Linked DNA regions of Homo sapiens. The protein of the gene in region 1 interacts with the protein of each later gene in a pairwise test. Each region holds a gene or a part of one and is shown on either strand. Other genes may lie near its edges. The genes, in order: NIF3L1, FXR2, BEND7, NME7, PTPA, LMO3 and SULT2A1.

Region 1 (4,465 bases):
GTAGGAGATGGTGCCTGGATAGAGATAAGGGGGAAGATTCTAGAAAGATTTGGGAGCTTGAATTGATAGGAATTGATGATTGGCTTTAGGCTGAGTAAAAGGAACCATTTCCTAGCTAAGGTGACAGGGTAGAAAGTATCCCACTGATGTGAAATCTGAGAGGTTTGGGACAGTTTAGGAAGAATGTAGGTAAAATAAATGCTGACCATTAACTTTTGAGATAATGTAATAAACTGTTCAATGATTTCATCCCTCCACAAAGAATGCAGTAAGTCCCCAGTTCTGTTGTAGTTTCTGTTTAGTTCAGGTTCAGAAAACATTAATTAGGTATCATCTATGTGCCAGGTACTGTCCTAAAATTTGCCATTTTTGATTTTGCAAAAAATAAACCAAGAGAGATCCAAAGTCTGTCCTACCTGTGAGGTAAAGGTCAGCCTCAACACCCTGCAGAACGCTGCTCCCAGAACCAGCACACAGGGCCACGACTTTGACTTGAGACTCTTCAAAACAGAGGAAACAAGAGACCAATACTTTACAATTCCCTTTCATTTTACTATTATAATTTGTACCAAGAATCCTAAACATAATACAGATTTCACTCCTGGTCTCATCACCAGTATATGAATTGTTCTTACTGCATTTTAAAAAAAACATGTTTTAATATAAGCAAACAGGTCATTCTTTGATATTGCATAGCTAACCCAAGGCATGGTTATTATTCCTTTGTTGTGTTTTTTTTTTTCAACAACCTTTGTAAATTGCGCAAAATACGGAACAATGCACAAATTTGCGTGTAATCTTTGCATAGGGGCCATGCTAATCTATATCATCCAATTTTTAGTATATGTGCTGCTGAAGGGGGCACCGTTATTCCTTTGGACATGGCTGCACAAACTCACAAACCACTGAATAGTACTAATGGTGCAGCTCTAGGCTGTATTGCAACAGTGCTAGGTAAAATAATCTCACCTGGGTCTTCAGACAACAGTGAGAGGTAAGCAAGTACTATCTCTATTCTCAGGTGAGGAAGCTAAGGAACTAAAAGGACTATAAAAAGAGGAATGCTACAAATGGATTTGGCACTATTTTTAAATATACTATTTATTCTCAAAAAGCATCCTCTGGAAAGTGAAATAACAGCAACTTTCGAGCCAAAATCCAAGTATTTAGCACTTGGGTTTCTAAAATGAACACTTTAGTGGACACTCCAGTTCAGCAGCAGGGTATCTCAAAGAGGGGGCTTTGGAGTTATTTTGGAAGTCAAATCCCACCTCTGCTATCCATTTTCTTTGGACACTAACTCCCTTGGGTTGTTTGATCTAACTGGACTTTTAGATAAGTTACTGATATGGTTTGGCTCTGTGTCCCCATCCAAATCTCACCTTGAATATAATCCCCATAATTCCCACGGGTCAAGGGCGGGACCAGGTGGAGGTAATTGGATCATGGGGGCAGTTCCCCCATGCTGTTCTTGTGATAATGCGTGAGTCTCACGAGATCTGATGGTTTCATAAGCATCTGGCATTTCTCTTGCTTGCACTCATTCTCTCTCCTGCCACCCTGAGAAGAGGTGCCTTCCAACATGATTGTAAGTTTCCTGTGGCCTCCCCAGCCATGCAGAACTGTGAGTCAATTAAACCTCTTTTCTTTATAAATTACCTAGTCTCAGGTATTTCTTCATAGCAGCGTGAGAACGAACTAATAAAGTTACTTATCTCTCTGAACCACAATTGTTCACCTATAAAATGGGAGAAATAGTACCAACCACAAAACTAACAACAGCTAGCACTTTATACTTAATGTGAGCCAATCACTGTGCCATGTCACATGGATTATACTACCACCTTCTGAGTTAGGTTTTATTAATGCAGTTTTTACAGATGAGGCTACTGTGACACAGAGGGCATAAACTTGTCAAAGACATGCAGCAAACAGGACAGACAAATCTGAAGCCAGGTTGTCTAAGCTCAGAATCCACACCTATAACCGCTGTACCCCACTGCTTTTGCCAGCAGGAGCTCACGTACTTAGGACAGACAATCAGTACAGTGCTAGGCTCACTGAAGGTGTTGAACAAATGTCTGTTCACTCTTTTTGTTCTCAAAAGTACCAGGAAAGGCCAGAAGAAAAAACTACAAGACTTAGAAACTACAATGGATCAGATCACTCAGTAGCACCTCACTAGAAAATATTACCAGTCTTATAAGTGCAAAGTTTATGTTGTAATTGTAGCAATCATGATTCCAGCTCTCTTCCTGACACATGGTAAGACTGCACTTTATGCCTCCCTTGCTTGTATTGGGCAACATGACTAATTCTGGAAAATGAGTTGAGCAGAAATTAACATGTTTCCTGGAATTTTAAACTGATGGTTTAAGACCCTGCAAAACTCCCTCCCTCTGCAACAGCAACCAGTCTACAATGGTCAGACTTCCTACAATGACCAACTTGAAATGAACACATAGCATGACAGAGAAATAAATCTCATTGATTAAGTCAATGAGATGTATTCCACATCAGAACCTGGCCCACCCTAATCAATAACGTAAACCAATTATCTCCTATGAGCTGCTAACACATTCTCTATCACATATTAATACAACCAAGAGTTTCGATCTTTGTCCAATGTTAACAGTAGGCATACTGGATAGATGAAGGAGCTATATTTACCTAAGGTTCTCCCCACCCCAAGGGCTAAGCGAATATGAGATAGTTTTAGGTGTCTTTTTATTCGATCAATCATGGTTGCCAGGGAGACAGATTCATCCAGTGTGCATAACCGTCCCATTCCAGTATGTAGAAGCAAAGGCTGAGGAGAAACAGAAGTTAGAAACGGTGTGCATTGTTAGTCCTAAAACAACAAATGCTAAAATCATCAACATGCACACTGTGAGATTACTATAGCAAGCTCCAGGCTAAATGTGGGGATACAAACCTGACAAAATCATTCTTCTAGGAGTTCACAGTTTTCTAGGAAGGCAGATGTTTAAATCAATAATCAGGCCAGGCGCGATGGCTCATGCCTATAATCCTAGCACTTTGGGAGGCTGTGGTGGGTGGATTGTTTGAGCTCGGGAGTTTGAGACCAGCCTGGGCAACATAGTGAGACCTCATCTCCACAAAAAAATCCAAAAATTAGCCAGGCAGTGGCGTGCGCCTGCAGTCCCAGCTACTTGGGAGGCTGAATGGGAGGTGGGCTTGAGCTACCCAGGAGACAGAGGTTGTGGTGAGCTGAGATTGTACCACTGCACTCTAGCCTGGGGACAGAGCCAGACCCTGTCTCAAATAAACAAAATAATAAAACTGTTTAAATACAAGGTAGGTGCTACAGTTGCAGCAGCACAAAGAATGACAAACTAAATGAGCTGTGACTTAGGAGGCTTGGGGAGTACTTGGAGGAAGGACTTAGGTCTTAGAGAAAACCCTAAAAGAGTTAAAAAGGGGGAAATAAAGAGTTTAAAAAGGGGTGATGTCAAGTGCAGTGTGGCAGGACAGAGGTACGATGAGATGGAGAAAGGCATTCTAAACACAGAGGACATGGACAAAGGTGCCAAAAACTTGAGAGAACACACTATGGGGGCAGATCCAAAAGAAGACAGTATGGCTACTGTGCAGAGTACATGCTGTGGAAGGAGAGGAGGCTGGAGGCCCAGGCTGTAGCAGATCATTAAGGGCTTCCAACACCATGCTAAAGAGCCTGGACTGCCTCCTAGGTGCTCGGTGAGACTACTCTCATCGCAGAAAATGAGAGTTTCAACTACTGTGGTGGCAGAGCCAATACAGAGGAGAAACACTGTATAGATATGAGGCCAGACTCAGCAGGGCCTGGAGTCAAGGAGGAATGTGAAAACTTGGAAACTAAAGTAGATAATGATACTGAAATATGAAATATGGAAAAAAAAAAAAGCGGGGGTGGCAAACGGATAAAGTATTTGGATATACTGAATTTGAAATACTTGTGGGCTCTGTAAGTGCAAAACATCCAGAAAGTAGATGAAAATATGGGTTCTTGTCATTTTTTCCCTTAAGAAAGCATTCTAAGCCAAAAAGTAAAGATAGAAATCATCATACAAATGGCTATCAAGTTAAAGAAGTGAATGACATGGTCCAGGCAGAGCGTGTAAAATAAGGAGACAGCAAACCTGTAACCAAATCTGTAACCCTGAAGACGTACCAATATTTTCCTGTTCCTGGAATGTCTCCCTTTCTCAATTACTTCCTAGAGAATATTATGCTCTCATTGCCATTTTGTACTTTAGATAACAGTGAATGGCCTGTTGATCTAATAATTTACAAATGAATTTGCTGAAGAAAAATGCAAAGTAATGATATTCATCAAATTGTACACATCAAATATGTACAATTCTTAGTATATCAATTATACCTCAATAAGGTATACCTCAATATACCTAAGTATATCAATTATACCTCAATTATACTGTTAGAAAATGTGTGCACAGTATTT
Region 2 (4,465 bases), on another chromosome or scaffold:
AGCTGGGATTACAAGCACCTGCCATCATGCTCGGGTAATTTTTGCATTTTTGTAAAGACATGGTTTCACCATGTTGGCCAGGCTAGTCTTGAATTTCTGACTTCAGGTGATCCACCCGCCTCAGCTTCCCAAAGTGCTGGGATTACAGGCATGAGCCACCATGCCCTGCCGTCCTCTGATTTTAATTAGTTCCTTCCTCTGGTTTCTTGTATCCTTGGTTTAAGATACATCCCAGGCTGGATGCAGTGGCTCACACCTGAAATCCCAGCACTTTGAGAGGTCGAGTGGGGCAGATCACCTGAGGTCAGGAGTTCAAGACCAGCCTGGCCAACATGATGAAACCCCATCTCTACTAAAAATACAAAAAATTAGCTGGGCGTGGTGGCGGGCGCCTATAATCCCAGCTACTTGGGAGGCTGAGGCAGGAGAATCGCTTGAACCCAGGAAGTGGAGGTTGCAGTGAGCTGAGATTGTGCCATTGCACTCCAGCCTGAGCACCAAGAGCGAAACTCTGTCTCAAAAAAAAAAAAAAAAAGATGCATCCCAAATACCTTTTTTTTCTTTTTGAGATGAAGTCTCACTCTGTTGCCCAAGCTGGAGTGCAGTGGCGCGGTCTCAGCTCACTGCAACCTCCACCTCCTGGTTCAAGTGATTCTCCTGCCTCAGCCTCCTGTGTAGCTTGGAGTACAGGCATGTGGCACCACACCCGGCTAATTTTTGTATTTTTAGTAGAGGTGGGGTTTTACCATGTTGGCCAGGCTGGTCTTGAACTCCTGACTTCAGGTGATCAGCCCACCTCAGCCAAAGTCCTGGGATTATGGGCATAAGCCACCGCGCTTGGCCTCTTTTTTTTTCGTGGAAGTGGGGTCTCACTGTGTTGCCCAGATCGTTCTTGAACTCCTGAGCTCAAGAGATCCTCCCACCTTGGCCTTCCAAAGTGCTGGGATTATAAGCTTGAGCCACTGTGCCCAGCAGCCCCAAATATCTTAATGGTTGTTCTATTGTTTATGTTGCCCAAGCTGGTCTTGAACTCCTGGGCATAAGCAGTCCTTTTGCCTCAGCCTCCCAAAGCGCTGAGATTACAGGTGTGAGCCCCACCATGCCCGGCCTCCTCATCCCTTTCTTGATGCTTTTGGGTGGTCTTCAATATCTCTTTGATTCTCTACTTTTCTTTAGGTTTATTCTCGAGCCAATGAACAGGAACCTTGTGGCTGGTGGCTGGCCCGGGTGCGGATGATGAAGGGAGATGTGAGTGACTGGGAATGCCTTTGGAGAACTACTGAAACAAATATGTTATTCATAGAAAGTTGCTCAGGTCATCCACAACTTCTCCTTTTTTACCATGTGCCAGTTCTATGTCATTGAATATGCTGCCTGTGATGCCACCTACAATGAAATTGTTACCCTGGAGCGACTTCGGCCAGTTAATCCCAATCCCCTTGCAACCAAAGGCAGCTTCTTCAAGGTTACCATGGCTGTGCCCGAGGATCTGAGAGAAGCGTGAGTGTTAAGGATGGTGGGAATGAGGGCCCTCTTTACAGCCCTAATCTCTGGCTTTATTTCTCCCAGGCATCACTCCCACTTTGCAGTTTTCTCTGTTGTTCCCCTGGCCCTCTACTAGAGCCCTTCTTGCTAAGAAGACACTTAGTTTCTTTATTTTCCCATCCTTGTTCTTTAACTGTGGTCCCTCTTCTTTTCTTTTCCTTTCTTTCTTTTTTTTTTTTTTTTGGAGACAGAGTTTTGCTCTTGTTGCCCAGGCTGGAGTGCAGTGGCACAATCTCGGCTCACCGCAACCTCCACCTCCTAGGTTCAGGCGATTCTCCTGCCTCAGCCTCCCGAGTAGCTGGGATTACAGGCATGCACCACCACACCCGGCTAATTTTGTATTTTTAGTAGAGACAGGGTTTCTCCATGTTGGTCAGGCTGGTCTCAAACTCCTGACCTCAAGTGATCCGCCTGCCTCAGCCTCCCAAAGTGCTGGGATTACAGGCGTGAGCCACCGCACCCGGCCCAGTCCCTTTTCTTTTCTTATTTACTCAGCCCTGCTTCTCTGAATTTTTTTTTTTTTTTTTAATAGAGACAGGGTCTCACTATGTTGCCCATGCTAGTCTTGAACTCCTGACTTCAAGTGATCATCCTGCCCTAGCCTCCCAAAGTGCTAGGATTACAGGTGCAAACCACCATGTCCAGCCTCCCCCGAACTCTTCACTGTACTCTCTGCATTCTGCCCGCTGAGTACTTTTTTCCTCTGCAGCTGCTCCAATGAAAACGTCCATAAAGAGTTCAAGAAAGCCCTGGGAGCCAACTGCATCTTTCTCAACATCACAAACAGTGAGCTCTTCATTCTGGTGAGTTTATTCTGCCTGAATTTCACATAAGCCTTTTGAACATTTTTTCTTTTTCCCTTTTTAACCCTTTTGCAGAAAGAGAAGGGCTTAAATGTGCTTATATTTATTTGTCAAGAGGACTTTATTGCTCCTGACTCCTACAGGCCCAGGTAGCCCTACCTTTTTTTTTTCTTTTTTTTGAGACGAAGTCTCACTCTTGTCACCCAGGCTGGAGAACAATGGCACGATCTCGGCTCACTGCAACCTCCACCTCCCGGGTTCAAGCAATTCTCCTGCCTCAGCCTCCTGAGTAGCTGGGATTACAGGTGTGCGTCACCACGCCGGCTAATTTTTTTTTTTTTGAGATGGAATCTCACTCTGTCGCCCAGGCTGGAGTGCAGTGGCGCGATCTCGGCTCACTGCAACCTCCACCTCCCAGATTGAAGCGATTCTCCTGCCTCAGCCTCCCGAGTAGCTGGGATTACAGGCGCCTGCCATTGCGCCTGGCTAATTTTTTTTTGTGTTTTTAGTAGAGACAGGGTTTCACCATGTTGGCCAGGCTGGTCCTGAACTGCTGATCTCCTGATCCACCCGCCTCGGCCTCCCAAAGTGCTGGGATTACAGACGTGAGCCACCGCGCCCGACATGCCCGGCTAATTTTTGTATTTTTAGTAGAAACAGGGTTTCACCATATTGGTCAGGCTGGTCTTGAACTCCTGACGTCGTGATCCGCCCGCCTTGGCCTCCCAAAGTGCTGGGATCACAGGCGTGAGCCACCACGCCCGGCCTCTGACCCTTTTTTTTTAAACCTGATAATCATGTTGCCATCTGGGTTAGAGACCCTCTCTTGATATTTGGACTTTCAGAAATAGAGTATGTAGCTCTCACCTTATGCTTGCTCCTTGCTTTCTCTCTAAACCATTTTCCTTCAGTACCCTGATAGTCAGCCTTTGTGGGACTGACAATGAGTCTCCTCCTTCCTAGCTTCATTTCTTTTTTTTTTGAAAACAGAGTATTGTTCTGTCACCAGGCTAGAGTGCAGTGGCGCAGTCTCGGCTCACTGCAACCTCCGACTCCCGGGTTCAAGCGATTCTCCTGCCTCAGCCTCTGGAGTAGCTGGGATTATAGGCATGTGCCACCACGCCCAGCTAATTTTTGTATTTTTAGTAAAGACAGGGTTTCACCACGTTGGCCAGGATGGTCTCGATCTCATGACCTCGTGATCCGCCTGCCTTGGCCTCCCAAAGTCCTGGGATTGCAGGCATGAGCCACCGCGCCCGGTCTCCTAGCTTCATTTCTTAACCCTTTTCCCGGGACTTAGGCATCCTGATTTCTAGTCCCTGGCTCTCCCTTAGTGTTTATTCCAAGCCAGTTTTAATGACTTTCCCACTGGTTTCCTCCCAGTCAACCACAGAAGCCCCTGTGAAGCGAGCATCTCTGCTGGGTGATATGCATTTCCGAAGCCTGCGCACCAAACTGCTACTTATGTCCCGCAATGAAGAAGCTACCAAGCACCTAGAGGTAACTTTTAGCTCCTTTTCCTTCTGCTGAAGGGTATTGTCTTCCTCCCTTCCTACCCTGTCCTCCATCCATGATCTTGTGTTTACAGAACAAAGACTAAGGCTTTTTCTGGGCAATTAAACCTGGGTCAGCTATTTTATCTCAGACTCCTCCAGATGGCAGAGCTCTATCATGGTATAGTGCAATTATTTTCAAATTTCTTTTAGCCAATTTTTTTTTTTTTTTTTTGGGAGACAGAGTCTCGCTGTGTCGCCTAGGCTGGAGTGCAATGACACGATCTCGGCTCACTGCAACCCCTGCCTCCTGTGTTTAAGCGATTCTCATGCCTCAGCCTTCTGAGTAGCTGGGATTACAGGCGTGCGCCACCACACCCGGCTAAGTTTTGTATTATTAGTAAGATGGGGTTTTGCCATGTTGCCCAAGCTGGCCTCGAACTCCTGGCCTCATGTGATCCACCCGCCTCAGCCTCCCAAAGTGCTGGGATTACAGGCGTGAGCCACCACACCTGGCTGAATGGTTTTTTTTGAGACGGAGTCTCACTTTGTCACCCAGGCTGTAGTGTAATGGTATAGTCTCAGCTGACTGCAACATCCACCTTCTGGGTTCAAGCGATTCTC
Region 3 (4,465 bases), on another chromosome or scaffold:
ATATGACTATAGGATGTCCCTGCTTTTCAACAGAAATGAACCTATAAGACAAGTGAAAACTAAAGGTCTTTAAAGGCATATAAACATGAATCACCTCCTCTTACCTCTTATCAGTCTGAAAATAAAGAATATTTACACTTTGATCCTGATATTTTTGTCTCCAAATTCAAAAGCAATTCATAAATATTAGAAGCAAACTAATTGCACTACATAAGAGCACAGAAGTTTTTAAACCAGTAATTAGTCTAGCTCAATGGTTCTCAACCTTGGTTGTACATTAGAATCACTTGAGTTTAAAAAAACTGAGATGCCGGGCCAGGCATGGTGGCTCACCCCTGTAATCCCAGCACTTTGGGAGGCCGAGGTGGGCGGATCACGAGGTCAAGAGATCGAGACCATCCTGGCCAACATGGTGAAACCCCGTCTCTACTAAAAATACAAAAATTAGCTGGGCATGGTGGTGGGCACCTGTAGTCCCAGCTACTTGAGAGGCTGAGGCAGGAGAATCACTTGAACCCAGGAGGCGGAGGTTGCAGTGAGCCGAGATTACGCCACTGCACTCCAGCCTGGCGACAGAGTGAGACTATGTCTCAAAACAAAAACAAAAACAAACAAACAAAAAAACTGAAATGCCTCAGCCCCACCCCAGACGAAGTGAACTGACACCTCCAGGCATGCTGCCTGGGAAACAGCATTGTCTGAAAGCTCTTCCAGTGATTCTGCTGTGCAGCCAGAGTTGGGAACTTCTCTTTGGTCTCTCTGCATTCCCCCTCAAGGCTGGGTCTGCACCCTCAGAATCAAAGGGACCTCGAATAATGATCACGATGGTCTAGGCCCCAGGCCTTGCTAAGCCTCATGATTCTCAATTAGAAATGAAAATGTTTTGGTTTAAGGAACACGGGGACTATCTGAGTTTTTCTTCTCCTTTTGCAAATCTAGACACAGCCCAAGTCTCTGGCATCCAGATCTTACCTCTAGGTCTTATTCCCTGTCTTCTTAAAAGAAAGGTGAAACTTTCTAAATGTAATTTAAATCTAAGTCTTCAGGCATTAAACCTTAAGTAAATCTACCCACATGACACAAATTTTTAAGTTTAAGAAAATTAAAGGAGAGTAATTTATTCAGTTTATCCTTTGTGCCATCCTACAGCTTTGGAATCGTTTACCTCCCTAATCTGCAAAGGTTCAGAAAAGAAAACATAGCGACAAAGTGGCATTTACTTAATAGATTCTAAAAAGGCTTCCGTCAAGGATTTAAATGGTTGCAATTTGTAGTTTGCCATTTCAGTAGTAAGGAGCTTAAGTGACAAAACAAATCATTACAATTTCATATGCATATTTTCTTAAGTGCTAACAAATTCCTCCTCGGAGAAAAGAATCCGAACATCATAAAGTAACCTTTCTTTCTGAGCTCCTTATTTAGGAGATGTTAACCTCCTCCAGGTTAATAAGAACACAGATTATCGTAGTGGAACAAGGTGAGTCCAATGCTTACTGACCTGAGCAAAATACTTCCTTGGGGTAAAACCAAATTCAGTGCTTAAAAAGATGCTGTTTAGCCCGGCGCGGTGGCTCACGCCTGTAATCCCAGCACTTTGGGAGGCTGAGGCGGGCAGATCACCTGAGGTCGGGAGTTTGAGACCAGCCTGACCAACATGGAGAAACCCCATCTCTACTAAAAATACAAAAATTAGCCAGGCGTGGTGGCACATGCCTGTAATCCCAGCTACTAGGGAGGCTGAGGCAGGAGAATCGCTTGAACCTGGGAGGTAGAGGTTTCGGTGAGCCGAGATCATGCCATTGCACTCCAGCCTGGGCAACAAGAGTGAAACTCCATCTCAAATAAAAAGATGCTGTTTTTCAGAAAGTAGCTCACATTACTTTAATGTGATCTTGGGTGACTGATATATCTAAGTATTAATTAAGCTTTTTATATCAAAACCACATCACTGAATATTAAAATTATACTAGAATTCACTAAATGGCATCCTGAACAGCTTCTGAGTGACGACCTTCCGGACTACCATCCTGATGAAAGGGCAGGAAAGCCAGTCACGACATGGCTTAGATCAAGTGGTGATGTCCCTTGACAAGAGGGAAAACTTAATACAATGATTTATTTCTTGTACCTGTGACAAAAACAATTCTGTTTTCCCTCAATTGTGAAGATCAGAAAATACAGCTGCTATAATGAAGACGTAGACTTCCAGACTTCTATAGAACGCTTCATGGACTTTAAGACCACACTAATGAAACAGCTTAGGCTTGTACCATGCCTTATAAAGTTCATTGACAGCTACTACATCATTCTATTTTGACAACAGCCCTGTGAGTTAGATATGAATTCTCCATTTACAGACGTGAAATAGGAAGCTCAGATGCGCCACACAGCTCCAAAAGCAGAAATTGGCATCCAATCCCAAATTACAAATCCACTGCTCTTCCGTCCCTCAACTTGCCTGATGGCAGTGAAAACAAAAAGGAGTCACATAAACAAAGACGACAGAACACGGCGGATTTCTGAGCTTCCGCATCCTGAATAGGAGAGAGAAAAGCCACAAAGCATAGCCTGGGGCTCCACATTTCTTATCTGCTTAGTGCTTGAACACTGAAGCCCATGCTTCCTAAAGGACCCCTCCATACACAGTTGTTCCCAAATTTAATTAACTGACATTTGTGAAGTACTAGGAGATCATGGAATGAAGTCTATCGAGTACATACACATAATTATATGAGCTGTATCAGTAGCAAGACAAAATATGTTTGATTTGCTAAAGGAAAAATGGATTGTAGAGAAAGCTGAAAAAACAGATACTTGAAAAGGCACAGCAAGACAGCAAGGTGAGAAGAAGGCTTTAATAAAAGCACAATGAACATTCCAACGGAAGATGTCAGATATGCATTAAAAATCAAAGGACTCATTCCGAGGCCTGATCCTTGTACCTGCTTGAATTTGCATTAATTTCCTCATGGTCTTGAGTTCTTGTAGAATGGCCTGCAACGTTGACTGGCAGTTACAAGTACAGCAGTTTGATCCAGCTGATGAATTCACCACTGGAAGTTCTCCTGAGCATGAAAGAAAAGAATGACATACTCCAAACAAACCAAAAAAAAAAAAAAAAATCATAAAGAGGTGGAGAGAAAAAAGAAAGTATCTTGGCAGGATTTTGAAGCATGTGCAATTATGATGAAGCTGTGCCTAAGGAAAACGTACCCACTAATTATCACAACCTAAATCTGGGGGTCTGACTTTATCTAATTATCCAGGCTTCCATACTGTAACGTGCGTGCTGTGGCGCGGTGCGGGAGCCCGCATGCACACACACACACAATGAGTGGGCACAGCAGGCCTCCCTATTGTCAGAGCTGTTCATCTCAAATAACAACACCTCAAAAACTCACTCGAAACACACTCATGCTAGTTCACACAAAAAAGGAGCCCTGAGGACAGCCTTGCAAAAAAAATTTGGTAGCTGTGTTTAAGAGTTCATATTAAAAATTATATGAGTTCTATTGAAAATAGTTTTGATATTAAGCACATTATTTCAAAAACAAAGAACTGTGCACACATGAAAACTTTTAGAATACTCTCTGGGTGTGGCGTTTGGGGTGGGGAAGCACAGAGGAGCAGGGATGGGAGGATATATTCGAATTGGATGCGTTCGAGGGTATTGGTGGGCTGGCTGGCTTTTCTTCAGCTTCACAAAGAAAATCTCTCTACCTCTTTTCTCCATTCCCATGTCTTATCTTTCCCTTGCCACAGCCTCTTTTGCACTGTTTAAATTTAATGCCTTTTCCTTGGTAAACCTATCTTATTCTGTTTCTCTCATAGGTAAGCAAGTATCTTCTATTGTCCTTAGAATAAAATGGGACATTTGGACATTGCTCTTACAGTGGGTTCCCTCCAGCACCTGTTCACCTGACCACCATAAAATGGAGCAGTTTAGAGACTTCCAGCGCTCACATTGTCTCACAGGCCAGCAAGGTAAGTTCCATGGTTTTGTTCCAATTATATGTTTTATTATACTTTATATACCTTAAATCCTGTAATATGCATTATTTAGGAATACTATAGAAAAATTCACCAGAGCAAAACCATGAAATACTTCAGGATAACTTAGTGATTGTAGTGGTACAATTATTTACATTCAAAATTGTAGCAAAATTGTAATGTTACAACTTTAAAATTATAAATAATCCCAATGAAATACCAAAGTAGTCACAGTTATATGTAATATATTTCTTTTTCTTTTTTTTTTTTTTTTTTTTTTGAGACAGGGTCTCGCTCTGCTGCACAGGCTGGAGTGCACTGGTATGATCTTGGTTCACTGCAACCCCTGCCTCCCAGGCTCAAGCGCTTCTCATGCCTCAGCCCCCCAAGTAGCTGGGACTACATGCATGCGCTACCACGCCCGGCTAATTTTTGTATTTTTTAGTAGTGATGGGGTTTCGCCATGTTGGCCAGG
Region 4 (4,465 bases), on another chromosome or scaffold:
GGGTTTATTTTGAAAGAGCTGAAGGGACTTGCTGATGAAATGGTAGGAAAAAGAAAGAAATCAATTATAAAACTGTCTAATATTGTTTCATTGCAAACACAACCAGATTAAAAACTACCTTAAGTGAGACACTTCTCACGATGCTAAAAATAAACTTACACTTCTTTAATTCAACCTCAGTATAAATCCAATAAATGCTTTATTTATATGGATTTAAAAATAAGGAGTAGAGAAACTTTCATAAACACTAGCTATATATAGGAAAATAATAGGATGTTAAGCTTGAAAGCACAGTGTTACGTCTGAATCAAAAGGAAATATCTCAAATTATATCTTCTTTTTAATATCTACTAGCCATAAACTGGTATTCTTACATGAATTCAATAATTCAAACATTTAGGAGCCTCAGTAATTTAAGTCTTGGGAACAAGAAACAGGATGAGAAGTGTTTTAATTGGAGAAAACTTACGTTGATCATGATCAGGTTACCAGTTCACAAAGGAGACACACTGAATCACTGTTTGATAGTAGGCAAGATGTCAAAGGTTTTCTCTACTACTAGAGCAGCAGCATAAATCCACCCTAAGTCACCAGTGATAGAAATGCTTTCCTTTGATATAAAACATTTAACAGAACTAGAAGAGCATTAAAATATTTTTAAAACACCTTACTCTGGCCGCAGAAGCAAAAGAATCAGGGCCATGCGCTGCATTTCTTATGCCATCTGTTCCAAAGAGGGCTCTAATGCTTTCAGAAGCATCTGTGCGTGCCACTCCAGAGTTTGCAGGTCCCAGCAGTCTTTTCCATTCACATATAGCATCATCTCTTAAAATCTCCATGGCAATAATAGGACCAGTTGTAATAAACTGGATCAGCTCACTACAAAACAGATAGAAGATTAGTTTGCTTCTTTTTTCTGTCAACTAGGTATTTGTCTTAACGACAGGATATATTTAAATTGGATTATTTCAACATAGACATGAATATTATAATCTTAGAACCATTAAGCATAGTTAATTTTACATGGGCAGGAGAAATTTTTCATAAATTGAGTGTCTTGCAGTGGCTCAATTCACTTCAAATCACTAGTAATGTCAAATTACTGTTACCAGAAAAATCACTGTTCTGTTGAATTAAGACTATTTCATGACTTAAAATGCATACTGTTGACCTATGCTTTTCCCAGTGCTCTAACAGGTACAGAGGATTTTCCTTTTTATTTACATGTGTTTACCACTGCAGTCAAGTACAATTTCACAATATATAGGGATGGATGCCTTGTAACATATTTTTAGTAAGAATTTATTTATTTTTGTGTAAAACTATTAGAATTCAAAGACTGACAAAGAACTCTCTTAATCAATAAACACTGAGCTGGTTTGGTGATAAAAAAAAAAATCCCCAGCAGGCTTCAAGAAATATCCTTTTATTAGCGTAAAAACTACTCTGGGTTATTTCTGTATTAAATTATTAAAGTGTACGCATCGGTTCTTGACTAAAAATCCAGCACTGAGTCACAGTCCCCCAAGGTATAAAAGACAATACTTCATTTTATTTTCTACTTTTATATGTGTACAGGATGCAATGACAAGTTTAACTATGAAATAAGTGACATCCTCCCTCTGACTATATTAAGCAGGGACACAGTACTTTTTAGAGTAAGCCCATGGTTTTCTCTCATCCAAAGTAGAGAGAAGAGATCCTCCTGGAGAAAGGAGCATGGTGTGACAGGCTCTTTTGTGCCCACTAACTTATGACTATTTTTTACACACTTCCTTCCACCCTGCATGTTATATGTCAGCTCCCCTCAGTACTTCCTTTTTAAAACACTCCCATTCATTTTGAAGAATATTTCTAAAAAACAGCATGTACAAAAAAGTATTCTTGTCTTCTATCCTAAGAGTTCTATAATACCTCCTCATACATTTTCTGCCAGACCTTTGCTGCCAAAACAAACAAAACCCCCAAGACCAACCACTAGATTTAAAAAAACCCAAATCAAAGGAGCAAACCATGTTTATTCACTCAATAAGCATTTAATAATTGCCTATAACATATCAGCGTCTGTGCCACAAAAAAGATCCCCCTTCAAGACACTTACAATCTAACGCCCTATTAATACAAAATTCTCAAAACACACAATTGAATAAGCCTATGAATATGGCATGTAACAATATAGGGAAGGATGTGCCTGATCATAGATACTGCTTCATGAAAATTTAATTACTTCACCTAGTCTTTTGTTACATCATTCTCATTAACAGGCAACTAGTTAATTCATTCCTTTAATAAAATTTACTGCATGCAAATCACACATAAATCATTAGACTAGGAGTTGTAAGTTAATGCTATAAACATATACAAAGTTTATACCAAAAGATAATTTCCACCAATTTTCTAGAAAAGTGTATATAGCTATTCTAAGAAGGCTTAGGAATATTTTATAACACTTGATTTGAAATAATCTATAGCATAATAATTTTCTTACATACAAATTTTTTTAAAAACCCACTACTCAGTGCAGGATATCAAATAACATGTCTACTGTGGCCATTTAGTTTGGCTGATGTAACATTCTTTCTTATTAGAAGTGTAAACAGTCTTTGGCAACAGTAATAATAATATGAGCATGCAAAATATTCACTTAAATTTAATTACATGTCAAATATTTAGAATACATAAAGTGTAACATATATTATCTGTTCTATGTCAAGGAACAAAATATATATCAAACTAGTTAAAATAGAAAGGTTCCATGAACATTGCTTTATGTATACAAGACTACCAAAATAGTTTAAAAGTACAACAGGCTACAGTAACCAAAACATCATGGTACTGGTACAAAAACAGACACATAGATCACTGGAACATAATAGAGAACCCAGAAATAAAGCCACACATCTACAGCCATCTGAACTTTGACAAAGTCAACAAAAATAAGCAATGGAGAAAGGATTCTCTATTCAATAAATGGTGCTGGGATACCTGTCTAGCCATAAGCAGAAGAAAGAAACTGGCCCCTTAACATTAACCATATACAAAACTTTACTCAAGATGGATTAAAGATTTAAAAGTAAGACCTCAAACTATAAGAATCCTAGAAGAAAACCTAGGAAACACCATTCTGGACATTGGCCTGGGGAAAGAATTTATGACTAAGTCCTCAAAAGTAATGGCAACGAAAACAAAAATTGACGAGTGGGACTAAAGAGCTTCTGCACAGAAAGCTTCTGCACTAGCAACAGAGTAAAAAGACAATCCACAGAATGAGAGAAAATATTCACAAACTATGCATTCAACAAAGGACTAATATGCAGAATCTGTAACGACCTTAAATAATCAAACAAGCATGAAACAACCCCACTAAAAAAAGAGCAAAAGACATAAATACACACTTCTCAAAAGAACATACAAGCAGCCAATAAGCATACGAAAAAACGCTCAATATCACTAATCATCGGAGAAATGCAAATCAAAACCACAATGAGATACCATTTCACACCAGTCAGAATGGTTATTATTAAAAAGTCAAAAAATAACATGCTGGCAAGACTATAGAGGAAAGAGAATGCTTATACACGGTTGGTGGGAATATTAATTACTCCAGCCATTGTGGAAAGCAGTGTGGATATTTCTCAAAGAACTTAAAACAGAGCTACCATTTAACCTAGCAATTCCATTACTGGGTATATACCCAAAAGAAAAGAAATTCTGCCAAAAAGACACATGCCCTCATACACTCATTGCTGTGCTATTCACAATAGCAAATACATGGAAATAACTCAAGTGCCCATCAGTGGCAGATTGGATAAAGAAAATGTGGTATATATATATAACACAGAATTCTACACAGCCATAAAAAAATAAAATTATGTCCTTGGCAATAATATGGACACAATTGGAGGCCATAATCCTAAACAAATTAATCCACAAACAGAAAACCAAATGCTGCATGTTCGCACTTACAAGTAGGAGCTAAACATTAAACACACATAGACACAAATTTGGGGGTAATAGACACTGTGGACTACTAGAGGAGAGAAGGCAGGTGGTTTGAAAAACTACCTATTGGGTACTATACTCACTACCTGGATGATGGGATCCATACTCCAAACCTCAGCATCACACAATATTCCCACGTAACAAATCTGCATGTGTACCCCCTGTATCTAAAATAGAAGTTGATTTTTTTTTAAAAAAAAAGTCAAAAAACGACAGATATGCTGGCAAGTCTGTAGAGAAAGGGAACACACTTATACACTGTTGATGGAAATGCAAATTAGTACCTCAACCACTGTAGAAAATAGTTTGGAGTTTTTTCAAAGGACTTAAAACAGAACTACCATTTGAACCTTAAATCCCATTACTGCTATATATCCAAAAGAAAACAAACCTTTCTACCAAAAAGATACATGCACTTGCCTGTTCATTGCAGCACTATACAAAATAGCAAAGACATGGAATC
Region 5 (4,465 bases), on another chromosome or scaffold:
GGCCAACATGATGAAACCCCGTCTCTACTAAAAATACAAGAATTAGCTGGGCGTGGTGGCACTCGCCTGTAATTCCAGCTACTCAGGAGGCTGAGGCAGAAGAATTGCTTGAACCCAGGAGGCGGAGGTTGCAGTGAGCTGAGATCGTGCCACTGTACTCCAGCCTGGGTGACAGAGTGAGACTCTGTCTTAAAAAAAAAAAGAATTGTCACATAATGTCTGCCAGTATTGACACAGTGTTGACCATATGGAGGAAGAATTCTAAGCACTTTATGTATAACTCATTAATTCTAACAACAACCCTATGAAATAGCAACTGTTATTTCCATTTTACATATGAGGAAACTGAGGCACAGAGATATCCGGTGTCTTCACTGGGTTCACGCCAGCTGAACCCAGGTAGTCAGACTCTGACCTGCTGCCCCACACCACCCAAGCCAGTCGCTGGGCAGCACTGATGTGGATCAGTTACCCAGAGCTCTTAAAATCCCCATTGCGGGCCCCAGTCTAGCAGTGCTGCTGCAGCAGGCCTGTGACGGAGCCCAGGAGCAGTGCTCGATGCTTCACAGGTGGTTGATATGCAGCCTCTGATAATATAGAAGGTTGGAACCAGAAGAACCTAGGAGATAACCTGCTGGGACTTGTGTTAGCTTTCAGACAGGCCAACTGAGGCTGGAGAGGCTGAGGCCCTGCCCAGGGTTTTACAAGTTGTCAGGAGTTGATGGCACCAAAACCCACCTTCCTAATCAGTGATTTTTTATTTATTTATTTGTTTATTTTTTTTGAGACAGGGTCTTGCTCTGTCGCCCAGGCTGGAGTGCAGTGGAGAGATCTCGGCTCACTGCAAGCTCTGCCTCCTGGGTTCATGCCATTCTCCTGCCTCAGCCTCCAGAGTAGCTGGGACCACAGGCGCCCACCACCACACCTGGCTGATTTTTTGGATTTTTAGTAGAGACGGGGTTTCACCGTGTTGGCCAGGATGGTCTCGATCTCCTGACCTTGTGATCCGCCTGCCTCGGCCTCCCAAAGTGCTGGGATTACAGGCGTGAGCCACCGTGCCCGGGCCCTTAATCAGTGATTTTTATGCCTTTCCTGAGCCAAAAGATGGCTGAGTGTTTGTTGGGGGAAATAAAGCTACATTATTGAAATTGAGACCAGTTAACACTCTTCAGTGGTTATTTTGGGGTCTCCTTGTGCTCCCAGTGGCCGAAAGGGTGAGACTGTCTTTTTACTTTTTGCTACCTTCCCTTTCCCTGTCCTCCTGTGCAGGTACCTTGAGGTTATGCGGAAACTCCAGAAAACATACAGGATGGAGCCAGCCGGCAGCCAGGGAGTGTGGGGTCTGGATGACTTCCAGTTTCTGCCCTTCATCTGGGGCAGTTCGCAGCTGATAGGTACTAGAGCGGGAGGTGCCTATCCCTCCACCCCCAACCAAGGCTGCGTTCTGTGGCCCTCCCCTGCCCCTCCTGCGCTCCCTCCTTCCCTTCTTCCTGCCCAGGGCAGACAGTGACAGCTTGGAAAGCAGGGCATTAGACCAGCTATTGAGGGAGGCTGTTTACTGTCGACCTTCTGCTGTGAGAGCCCGTGTGGTGGGCTGGAGGAGGCGGAGGCCAAGCGCCACCAAGATAATGGGAAGTGACATGGGCTGGAGCAAGGGCGCACGCCTGGTGCATAATGGACTGGTGTGAAATGCGCCCCAGCTCCTGGCAGCAGCTGTGGGGTTTTATGTTGAAAATGAGGGACCCTTTTGATTTGGTGACCAGTGTCATCCACTGTTATTATCGAGCTGTGTGCAAAGGGGCCCGTTAGGGAGCAGCCGCCAAGTGCTGGGTGGTGGGCCTGCTTCCTGTGGGGCTCAGAGAGGCCTGCTCTGGTGACTCCCCAACTCTTGAAGCTAGTTTTCAGGATGGGCGTAGGTGATCATCTCTATTTTGATGAAGAATGAACTGCCTACAGACTGATATTCATAAATGACCATTAGTTGTGGCCTCGGGTGCATTGCCTCCCCGAATCTTCTCAGTGACACTGCGAAGGGTCTGCCAGCATGAAGCCGGCTCTGCTGACTGGCACCTGCACCAGGCACCATACTGAGTGCTGTAGGTGTGGTAATTGTTGTCATGGCCCCTAGGAGGAGGTGCTCTTCTTGTCCCCAGTGTCCAGGTGAGGAAACTGAACCTTGGCAGGCTGAAGTCATGCGTCCAACGCCATGCAGCTAGAGCTTAGCACATTAGAATACACAAACCCAGAGTTACTTATTGCTCCTTCAAGGTGAGGTGTTGAGGGCACCACGGGCAGGACTGAGGCCCCTGGGGGGGTGTGACTGCTGGGCCGGGTTGCCCAGGTAGTCGTGGGGCCTGGTTCTGAATGCTGGGGCCCATTCCTTTTCCCAGACCACCCATACCTGGAGCCCAGACACTTTGTGGATGAGAAGGCCGTGAATGAGAACCACAAGGACTACATGTTCCTGGAGTGTATCCTGTTTATTACCGAGGTGAGGAGGAGGGGTGAGAGAGAAGCCCATGGCTGCCTCCAGGCTCAGATGAACCAAGGCTGGTGGCCTTACAGTGGATCAGAAGAGCCAGAGCTGCTGCCCAAAATGGCAGGGCCGGCCGGAGCGGGTTATTGAAAAGGAAGCACCACTGGGCCTCTTCCGAAAGAGCCGCTGCTGACTGTCAGGTCCTCCGCCCAGTTCTCCTTCAGTTTCTCCTGAACACCACAGGAGTCTTGAGATGAGGGTCTAAGACTTGGTCACTAACTGGCCTTGGTGACTGCTGCAGCAGGTCTGAAAGGGTCGGGGCGGGCGGAGGTTTGTGGGGGAGGGTCAGCATCTTTCGGTGGGGCCCCACAAGGGTCTGTAGAACCATGTGCTGTGGATGTGTAAAATGAAACCACCAGAGGAGATGGAGCGAACTTCTGGTGCAGACAGCTTTTCTGTCGAAGGGACACGTCTCTGTCAGTGCCTGAGGACGTGGGCCCGAGCAAAGTGCTGGAGTGGGAGTGCGCAGGCCTGGCCTGTGGTGGCAGTCACTGGATAGCCAGCCCCACGGCTGGGTTCTGGAACTGGAAGTTATTGTCTCACCAAGGCAGGATTCCTTGCAGTGGGCCCTGGACCACTTGTGCGAGATCTCCTAGTGTGTTTGTTAAAACGCACATTCCTGGGCCCTCCATCCCAGCTTATTGCATCAGAATCTTAGGGGACAAGAGCCAGGAACCTGCATCTAAACACACGTGCCAGGCGACTGCACAGGAAAGCTGGGGACCCTCTGCTCTCTGGACCTCTCTTGAGGGAGGTGTTAGGACTTCTCATCCTCTCTGCCATCCCCATGCCCCAGTTTCCAAAGGGCGCCCTCGCTCAGCTATCTGGAGAGGGTTTGAGAGTTCTATCCCTCCTCAGTCCCTTTCCCGACACCAGCACGGATGTCTGCTGCCTCAGTGAGGTTCCTAGCAGGCCTGTGGATGCTGGCCACGGGGGCTGCTCTCCGTCCGGGCTGTGTATTCTGAGCCCCCGACGAGGTGGAGAAAGCTGGGTTATAACCAGCAGCCTTGGCTCCAGGCTCTTCCTGGTCAACATTCGGCTCAGGCTTCTGCCAAACTCCAGAGGCCAGAGGGGAATGACACATTTTTTCCAAGTCAGCAAATGGAGCCGGGACTGACGGCTGGGCGGCCACCACTTCATTCCCGGAGATCTGCTGCCCTCAGCAGTGTGGCAGGCCCAAGGTCGGGAGGACTTGGGGGCAGCCTGGCTCACTGCCTTGAAAGCCAGTCACGCGCTGCTCTCTGTGGAGTGGAATGTGGGGGTCTGCGGAGCCCTGGGGGACCTCAGGATAAGCTGGAGGAGCAGGGTGGGAAGAAGGGTGCAGATGCCACACTGAGTTCTTGGGTGTGGCTGAAAGGCTGAGCTGTTTGGGCTCCCCCGGCGGCTGGCCAGGCCTCTGGGTCCCTGTCGGTATTCTAACTAGGAGGCATGCCAGGCCTGGCCTCCAGGATTTTGGGAATTGATTCCATGGTAAAATTTTGTCTTTAGTTGGTTGGTTGATTTTGTTGGTATAAACACCCCAAAAGCTTTTCCAAAGTTTGGGACCCAGTTCCTCCAGTAGAGGAAATCTCAAAGTAGCCACTAGGTGGCAGGAGAGGCACACTGAACTTGGAGAGGGTTTGGTGACATTTATTTGAGGCAGCAGAAGGAACAGGGAGGGGAGGGCGTGCCTAGAGTTGTTGGCTGTTCCGCACCTTCTCCACAGGTCCGGGTTTTCACTTTGGGTCTAGGCTCTTGGGCATGGTGTTCAACAGTAGACCCTAGGAGGAGTGTGCCCAGGAGCCGGGGTGGCTGCAGCAAGGGCCCATCTTGCCACGTGGCCGCTGGTTGCAGCACACGTTGTGTTGGTTCTCCAGAGCGCCCACCCTCTTCCACCTCGGAGCAGTGAGCAGCATTTTGCAGTCCCTAGTTGGTGAGTGGCCTGGCCTA
Region 6 (4,465 bases), on another chromosome or scaffold:
AGAAGTATATGAAACAAGTGTAAATAGTAAATCATCCTTATAAAATATAGTGCTTAGTTTTAAGCAGGTTATCAAAAGCCTATGCTAAGAAGCCTCCACTGGTAACATCCCTTTTAAGAAATAAAAATGTTAGCCTAGCCATCTTCTTTCCCTAATGTTAGTGACTGACAATTATGATTAATTTCTATCTTACAACACTTAGCTAGGGAGCTCCAATCCATATTTCTAGTGTCTATACTTTCCTATTCCACATCTTCAGTTAACTGTAAGTTAGAGATTTCTATACTATACTGTTTTCAATAAGAAGTCCGGGTTGTGTACTCATTCCTCCACTATACACCTGTGAACAAATTTACTGTCTTTCCCACTGACAGTCCGGTTGTCATTATACATCTCACTGCTAACAACCCTTAGTGTATCAAATGACACTACCCACACCCCAAATCTTGCTATACATTATTCAAAGTTTACCTTACTTTAAGTCCACTATATCTATTCACATTTATATGCTCTTAGTCAGAAAATAAAATACCTCTCTTGAAATGGGCCTGACTCCGGAGAGGGAGACCAGATTCGCTCCGCCTCCCGGGTTCCCGCCATTCTCCTGCCTCAGCCTCCCCAGTAGCTCTGACTACAGGCGCCCGCCACCTCGACCGGCTCATTTTTTTGTATTTTTTAGTAGAGACGGGGTTTCACCGTGTTAGCCAGGATGGTCTCGATCTCCCAACCTCGTGATCCGCCCGCCCGCCTCGGCCTCCCAAAGTGCTGGGATTACCGGCATTAGCCACCGCGCCCGGCCAGGTTTAAATCTTGAGTCTACCACTTTCTTCTAACTGTAATCTTGGGCAAGTTACTTACATTTCCTATACTTTACTTTCCTCATCTGTCAAATGAAGCTAATAACTACCTATTTATGGGATATTTTGAGTATTAAACGAATGAGTACATGTAAAACACTCAGAACGGTGTTTGGTGTTTGACTAATACTTTATCAGAATTTGCTATCATTATTATTTGGTAATGATAATCTTTTCACCTTTACTTAAGTTGTTCCCTAGCAAGAAATATTTCTCCCCTTTTTCTGTCTACTTAAATTGTAACAATCCTTGAGTTCCCATTGCCTCCATCAACATCTTCTGACCATGTAAATTTGCTTATTCTGATGTTTCCCAAAGCACTTATTTATTGGTGTATTGTTTATTTTGGTGTTTCAAAATTTCTCATGAATGTGTAACTGGTTTGCCATTATAGTCAGCAGTTCTGCGGTAAATGACCACGAGTTATATTTCTTTTGAACCCTTTGCAGAACCATCATAAACTGTACTACCACTTAAGGTGTGTGGTCAATAAAAATTGGTTAAGGTAGATTTATTCCAGAAACCAACAGCTTTAAATAACAAATGTATTTTAGATGACTAATTTAAATTTGTATTCATTTTGACTTTTATTTAATGGCTTTTCAAAGACTAAGTTTACAATTTCATTTCCTCTAGGTGCTTGCTCTCTTTCTACTCCTCCATGTGCCTACCAAACCGCTTCTCTAATCTCTGAACATACTGAGCCGCTTTTCATTTCCTAAACACGTCAAATGCTTTCACATCTGCATGCCTTTGCACGTTGCTCAATTTGCCTGAAAATTCCTTTCCTCACTGCTCCCTGGCTCCCTCATCTTCCCCAACCCCGAGCAGACACACTTCCTGTAAGTCAACCAGTTCTAGGGAGTTCTTTTTTCAAGACCCAGCATATCAGGCCTTTGATGCTTCCCTAACACTTCAAGAAGGATGGCTCTCTCTTCCCTCAGTATAGCTCTATTTAGCATCGATTACACTCTTCTGTGAGTCTTTGATGTCCTGTCTCTCCCGTAGCTCCGGACACCTCTAAGAAATAAACCAGATTTTATCCACCTCAGCTTCCACAGAGCCTAGCACAGTGCTTTATTCTTAAAAAAAAGAAAATTAATTAATTGTTACATAATTTTACATATTTGGGAAAATTTCATCACAAGCTTTTTATTTTTCCTTTTCTTACAAAACTATCATTTAGTTTTATTGTGTTTTCTAAGGAGAAGGGGCTTATTCACCTTTAAGAAATTAACCTGTTATATAGAATCTTCCAATTCTGAATGAGATTCAAGATATCATAAAATAAGCTTAAATAACCCTCCTGCGGTACCTTTTAAAATAGAGAAACTAGCCGAATTTTAATGCAGGATTCACGTTTTAGCTATACGCCTCTAAAAGGGGCAGAGGAGATCTATATATAAGGGACAATCAATCCTGAAAGGTTATTATTACTGCTACTTTTTAAAACATTCAGAAATGCTTTGGATCTTAATGATACTTTGATTTAAAGGTAAAGATGAAATGACTGCTGAATACAATTCACAAACGCGTAATTCCACAACTTTAGACGTCAATAAAGTTTGCTTAAGAGAAAATGCCTATGAATTACCTATTTGCCTTGTGTTTCACTTGAAAAGTGCAATATTGCGACAATGATTTGGCTACTGGAAGTGGGATATGGGTTTCCTGGAGGAGACTGAAGCAAACTTCAGAGTAAAAGGAGAATCTCCTATATGAAAACCTTCTGTATCCTGGGTAACAAAATTTGTCTGCTTTGCTTGACTGATGAAGATTAGCTGACTTCCCGCATTAGTTTGTCTTGTAGGGGCTGAAGTGACAAGACAATAACTAAGTGCTAATTGTGCATAACCGGCACTAAAGATATGCAGTCCCATTATGGCATGTAATAAATGAAGCGAACACAGAAATATATTAGGTACTTTAATAATGATACTAGAATAGTATTTCGCAGCAATAAGAATGTGAACAGTTTTAGAGTCAAAATTTAGGAGTGTTTGTCTTACTTGACTGAGTTCTCCTGAGGAGACAGACTTAATTGTGAATGCAACTTTTTATTTCAATGGTGAAATAAAATAGATATATGATTTGTAAATAGCATTAACAACCTACAATTACTTTGCATCATAATAGAATTTAGGCTGGGTTTAGCACTTGAATGTTTTTATTTTCTATGTAGAACATGGATAAAATAGGTAACCCTACTTAATAGAAGAAAATGGACAAAGGACATAAACTGCCTACTTCTCTAAAAGAAGGAATACCAAAGGACCACCAGGGATCAAATAAATGCCAGTTAGAAATTATAATGAAATACTATCTTTCATCCCTTAAGGTGGCAAGGATTTTTTTTTTTTTTTTTTAAACGTAATTCCTAGTGTTTTAGAATGAATGTGAGGGAATGCGTAGTTTTGTAGATTTCTGCTAGGAGAATAATTGGTATAACTTTCCTGGAGATCATTAAGCAATGTACAGCATATGCCTTCAAACTGTTATATACCTTGTTTAAGTAATCATGCTCTGTGAATTTAACCAGATAGAGATATGAGCATTTGTTTTTATACAATCTGAATATCTACATTTAGCAAGAAACTCTATTGTGATATATGTCTTGTGGGAAAGTCAAGTTAGTGGACTATTATTTGGTAAATTATAAAAATAACTAACTTTTGAGAACCAGTTGTGTTCCTGACATTTAACATAAATTATTTTATTGAAGTTTCAGACTCTGCAAGAGAGGTATTAGTGTTTCTATTTTGTAGGTGTGGGAATCAAATTCAGAGAGATTAAGTAACATACTCAAGATCACACAGTTAATATATCAGCTACTATATGGTGGTGCTGAAATCTGAATCTCTTCTCACTATAAATGTCACATTCTTTCTACTATTCTACAGGGTCTCATAAGGTCCATTTTTATATTGATAATACTGATAATATTTACAGCACAAAAACTTTTGAAGATACAACTTATATATCTGATGATAGAAGACATATGTGAAGCTCTGTCCATAAAGCTGAACTCAGAAAAGCTTAAAATATCTTAAAAGAATTTTTAATGGCAGGTAAAAAAGGCACAAAATATAAATTGAGTGAAAAAGTCCAAATATCAAACATTAGGATTCTCCCTTGTAACTTTAATTTGCTTAAATGTGAGTGTAATATTTATACAATGTCATTTGTCCTATAGACATAGGAACATGTATGGCTGGCTATATATCAAAATATTAAAATGTTTTCTTTTAGAAGAATGAGACATGGGACAATGTCTTGTTTTTATCATTTTCTATTTTCTAAATTTCCTACTATGAATATGTAATCTTTTATAAGTAGAAAAGCAATGACTTTATGATTCCATAATGGGAACTGCATGGTTACTGGCTGCTATTAGTTGATCAACATGACAAGTCAACAAAAGTATTCTAAATTTACTACTAAGACACCTTTAAAATGTATAAAATACATATATACATGCACATAAAGGTGTCTGTATGGATGTGGGAATGTTTGTGTTTGTATATCCTTATCCCTACCAAAAACATGTGCATTTGCCAATTTATTTTCGTCTAAATGTTACCCTAGACTGAATGAACTTACTTTGATTC
Region 7 (4,140 bases), on another chromosome or scaffold:
GCTGTAAGGTGCCAAGATGAATGGAAATGTCTATTGCATGGGGTGAAAGAATCCATTTTTCCAGGGCCAGGCGTGGTGGCTCATGCTTGTAATCCCAGCACTTTGGGAGGCCAAGGCGGGTGGATCACCTGAGGTCAGGAGTTCAAGACCAGCCTGGCTAACACGGAGAAAGCCCATCTCTACTAAAAATACAAAAAATTAGCCAAGTGTGGTGGTGGGCGCCTGTAATCCCAGCTACTCGGGAGGCTGAGGCAGGAGAATCACTTGAACCTGGGAGGAGGAGGCTGCAGTGAGCCGAGATCCTGCCATTTGCACTCCAGCCTGGGCAACAAGAGTGAAACTCCGGCTCAAAACAAAAATCCATTTTTCCAAAATCCTACAGTTCTAATACATCTGGGACAGTCCTCCGTGGAAGAAAAGAATTAAATCCTTCAAAAGACCCAGAGTCTTGGGCAATCGTAAAAGTAAACGTTGGCCGGGTACGGTGGCTCACGCCTGTAATCCCAGCACTTTGAGAGACCAAGGCAAGTGTATCACTTGAGCTCAGGAGTTCGAGACCAGCCTGGGCAACATGGTGAAACTCTGTTTCTACTAAAAATACAAAAATTAGCCATGTGTGGTGGCGCCCACCTGTAGTCCCAGCTACTTGGGGTGGGGCTGAGACATGAGAATCGCTTGAACCCAGGAGGCAGAGGTTGCAGTGAGCCGAGATTACAACACTGTACTCCTGCCTGGGAGACAGAGCAAGACTCCATCTCAAAAAAAAAAAAAAAGATAAATGCTGAGACTTTGTATAACTTATCTATATTAGGGATACATACCATACACATACACCACAGAAAGAAAATACACAGAACCTGTCCTACATGATATGTGTTATGAGGCGAAATACAGCAAGGATGGGGAGTGACCTCTAAATTGGGTGGTGAGAGAGAACCTCGCTGAGAAACTTGAATTGGAATAAAGACTTGAAAGAGGCAAATAGGCAAGTCATGGGCCAATCTGAGAGAGCAGCGTTCCAAGGAGAAGGAGCGTGGGACGCCAATAGTCTGAGGAGTGGGGATGCCTGCCACGTTTGAGGCAGAATCAGAAGTCCCCGTGTGAGTAGAGTGACGGAGAGGGTAGTTTTAGGGGATGAGCTCAGAGAAGCCACAGGGGCTGGATCACCTGGAGCCCTGTAAGCGCCTCCAGCACTTGTACTTGAGTGAAACCTAGAGTCCTCGGAAAATCTGAGCAGAGAAGTGGCATGATCTGGGATCATGAGGGCTGCCATGCTGAGACTAACTTATGAAAGAGAACTTATGAAAGCAGAGGCCAGGCCGGGTGTGGTGGCTCACGCCTGTAATCCCAGCACTTTGGGAGGCCAAGGCGGGCGGATCACCTGAGGTCAGAAGTTTGAGACCAGCCTGGCCAACATGGCAAAACCCCATCTCTACTAAAAATACAAAAATTAGCCAGGCGTGGTGGTAGGCACCTGTAATCCCAGCTATTCGGGAGGCTGAGGCACGAGAACTGCTTGAACTCGGGAGGCAGAGGTTGCAGTGAGCCAAGATCGCGCTACTGCACTCCAGCCTGAGGGATAGAGCAAGACTCCGTCTCTACAAAAAAAAAAAGAAAAAAAAGCAGAGACCAGTTACAAGTGTACTCTAATAATCCAGGTGAAAAATGATGTTGGCTTGAGTCAACGTGGTAGAAACAGAGGTGGTGAGACGTGACTTGATTCTGGACATATCAGATGATATACTGGCGTTATTGCTGAGGAATTGTACACAGGATGGATGGGAGAAAGGAGAAAATAGGAAATTGTTTCCAGCTAGGTGAATAACTATGTGACCAGGCAGGATAAAGGCCCACCACGAACCATCGGCCATTCTGCTATGTTAGCTACAATGTCCATGTCAGGTGCCTGGTGGAGACAGGTCAAGGAGATGTGTGGTCTGACCTGAGTTTCTGCTTCTTGTTTCCAGGTGTATCTGGGGACTGGAAAAATCACTTCACAGTGGCCCAAGCTGAAGACTTTGATAAATTGTTCCAAGAGAAGATGGCAGATCTTCCTCGAGAGCTGTTCCCATGGGAATAACGTCCAAAACACTCTGGATCTTATATGGAGAATGACATTGATTCTCCTGTCCTTGTACATGTACCTGACTGGGGTCATTGTGTAAGACTTATTATTTTATCCTGAAACCTTAAATATCAAACCTCTGCATCTCTGATCCCTTCCTTGTTAAAAGTTACCAGGGTTGGCCAGGCACGGTGGTTCATGCCTGTAATCCCAGCACTATGGGAGGCCGAGACGGGCGGATCACGAGGTCAGGAGACTGAGACCATCCTGGCTAACACGGTGAAACCCCATCTCTACTAAAAATACAAAAACCAAAAAAAATTAGCCAGGCGCATTGGCTCATGTCTGTAATCCCAGCACTTTGGGAGGTCGGGGGGGTGGGGGAGGATCACGGGGTCAGGAGATCGAGACCATCCTGGCCAACATGATGAAACCCTATCTCTACTAAAAATACAAAAATTAGCCGGGCATGGTGGTGCACGCCTATAGTCCCAGCTACTCGGGAGGCTGAGGTAGGAGAATCGTTTGAACTCAGGAGGCAGAGGTTGCAATGAGCCAAGATCGCGCCACTGCACTCCAGCCTGGGTGACAGAGCGAGACCGTCTCAAAAAGAAAGAAGTGACTAGGGTTCAGAGAACCAGGGTTCAAAGCCCAGGGATGCAAAGGTTGCAGTGAGTTGAGTCATGGGATCCCAGACTTTTTTAAATGTTTGCAATGTTTCCCGTTTACAGAATGCTACAAGAATAATGTACGTACTACCTAAAAGGATGTCTAAATGTTTGTTAATAAAAATAAGAAATAGCTACAGTGACAGATTTTAGAGCAAAAATTAGTAATAAAAATAAGAAATAAAATTACAGGAGCAATTAAGGTTCCATTTCTTTTCATCACATGTATCTCCACAATTTATTATTGCTCTGATCTTAAGGAGTGTAATTTGCAATCTAATTTTATCCTCTTACTCTGTGTTGTTAAACCATATACAATAAACGGTGTTTATGGAGGCTTCTAAAACTTTCATAAGGCCAGGTGCGGTGGCTCACACCTGTAATCCCAGCACTTTGGGAGGCCAAGGAGGGCGGATCACTTGAGGTCAGGAGTTTGAGACCAGCCTGGCCAACATAGTGAAACTCTGTCTCTACTAAAAATACAAAAATTAGCTGGGCATGATGGCACATGTCTGTAATCCCAGCTACTCGGGAGGCTGAGGCATGAGAATTGCTTGAACCTAGGAGATGGAGGTTGCAGTGAGCTGAGATCATACCATTGCACTCCAGCCTGGGCAACAGAGGGAGACTCCATCTCAAAAATAAAAAATAAAAAAACTAAAGTCTTGTTCCGCAAAAGAACCAAAGAACCTATAAAGAGAATGAAAAGATAGGCCAGGTGCGGTGGCTCATGCCTGTAATCCCAGCACTTTCGGAGGCCGAGGCAGGTGGATCACTTGAGCTCAGGAGTTCAAGACAAGTCTGGCCAACATGGTAAAACCCTGTCTCTACTAAAAATAGAAAAATTAGCCAGATGTGTTGGCGGAGGTTGCAGTGAGCCGAGATTGTGCCACTACATTCCAGCCTGGGCAACAAAGTGAGACTCCATCTCAAAACAAAATGAGAAAACAAGAAGACAAACCAGAGATGGAGAGGAAGTACTTGTAAATCTCATATCTGGCAATGGACTTGTTTCTAGAATACATAAAGAACTCCTAAAACCCAGCATTAAACAAATAATCTTTTAAAAGAAAAAAAAGAATAAAAGATTTGAACAAACATTTCACCAAAGAGGACACAGGGATGGCAAATCAGCACATGAAACGATGTTTTGCATCATTTGCCTCTAGAGAAATATAAATTAAAACCACAACAAGAAGGCCGGGTAAGGTGGCTCACGCCTATGATCCCAGCACTTTGAGAGGCCAAGGTAGGTGGATCACTTGAGCTCAGGAGTTTGAGACCAGCCTGGCCAACATGGTGAAACCCTGTCTCTACTAAAAATACAAAAATTAGCCAGGCGTGGTGGCGGGTGCCTGTAGTCCCAGCTACTTGGGAGGCTGAGGCAGGAGAATGGCTTGAACCCGG

What was found.
Region 2: the proteins of NIF3L1 (region 1) and FXR2 interact in binary tests that used the Homo sapiens proteins (3 or more experiments, as listed by UniProt).
Region 3: the proteins of NIF3L1 (region 1) and BEND7 interact in binary tests that used the Homo sapiens proteins (3 or more experiments, as listed by UniProt).
Region 4: the proteins of NIF3L1 (region 1) and NME7 interact in binary tests that used the Homo sapiens proteins (3 or more experiments, as listed by UniProt).
Region 5: the proteins of NIF3L1 (region 1) and PTPA interact in binary tests that used the Homo sapiens proteins (3 or more experiments, as listed by UniProt).
Region 6: the proteins of NIF3L1 (region 1) and LMO3 interact in binary tests that used the Homo sapiens proteins (3 or more experiments, as listed by UniProt).
Region 7: the proteins of NIF3L1 (region 1) and SULT2A1 interact in binary tests that used the Homo sapiens proteins (3 or more experiments, as listed by UniProt).

What each region holds. Positions count from the first base shown.
Region 1 is NC_000002.12:200,895,420-200,899,884, reverse strand, and holds part of NIF3L1 (NIF3-like protein 1), read right to left. Parts: intron 2,810-4,465; coding exon 2,671-2,809; intron 501-2,670; coding exon 417-500; intron 1-416. UniProt on the Homo sapiens protein: May function as a transcriptional corepressor through its interaction with COPS2, negatively regulating the expression of genes involved in neuronal differentiation.
Region 2 is NC_000017.11:7,600,792-7,605,256, reverse strand, and holds part of FXR2 (RNA-binding protein FXR2), read left to right. Parts: intron 1-1,176; coding exon 1,177-1,248; intron 1,249-1,351; coding exon 1,352-1,500; intron 1,501-2,254; coding exon 2,255-2,348; intron 2,349-3,731; coding exon 3,732-3,848; intron 3,849-4,465. UniProt on the Homo sapiens protein: mRNA-binding protein that acts as a regulator of mRNAs translation and/or stability, and which is required for adult hippocampal neurogenesis. Specifically binds to AU-rich elements (AREs) in the 3'-UTR of target mRNAs.
Region 3 is NC_000010.11:13,493,824-13,498,288, forward strand, and holds part of BEND7 (BEN domain-containing protein 7), read right to left. Parts: intron 3,066-4,465; coding exon 2,943-3,065; intron 1-2,942.
Region 4 is NC_000001.11:169,297,885-169,302,349, forward strand, and holds part of NME7 (nucleoside diphosphate kinase homolog 7), read right to left. Parts: intron 880-4,465; coding exon 672-879; intron 1-671. UniProt on the Homo sapiens protein: Possesses an intrinsic kinase activity. Displays 3'-5' exonuclease activity with a preference for single-stranded DNA. Does not seem to have nucleoside diphosphate kinase activity.
Region 5 is NC_000009.12:129,135,202-129,139,666, forward strand, and holds part of PTPA (serine/threonine-protein phosphatase 2A activator), read left to right. Parts: intron 1-1,269; coding exon 1,270-1,394; intron 1,395-2,390; coding exon 2,391-2,491; intron 2,492-4,465. UniProt on the Homo sapiens protein: PPIases accelerate the folding of proteins. It catalyzes the cis-trans isomerization of proline imidic peptide bonds in oligopeptides. Acts as a regulatory subunit for serine/threonine-protein phosphatase 2A (PP2A).
Region 6 is NC_000012.12:16,554,163-16,558,627, forward strand, and holds part of LMO3 (LIM domain only protein 3), read right to left. Parts: intron 1-4,465.
Region 7 is NC_000019.10:47,869,395-47,873,534, reverse strand, and holds the end of SULT2A1 (sulfotransferase 2A1), read left to right. Parts: intron 1-1,967; coding exon 1,968-2,080; 3' UTR 2,081-3,068; downstream 3,069-4,140. UniProt on the Homo sapiens protein: Sulfotransferase that utilizes 3'-phospho-5'-adenylyl sulfate (PAPS) as sulfonate donor to catalyze the sulfonation of steroids and bile acids in the liver and adrenal glands.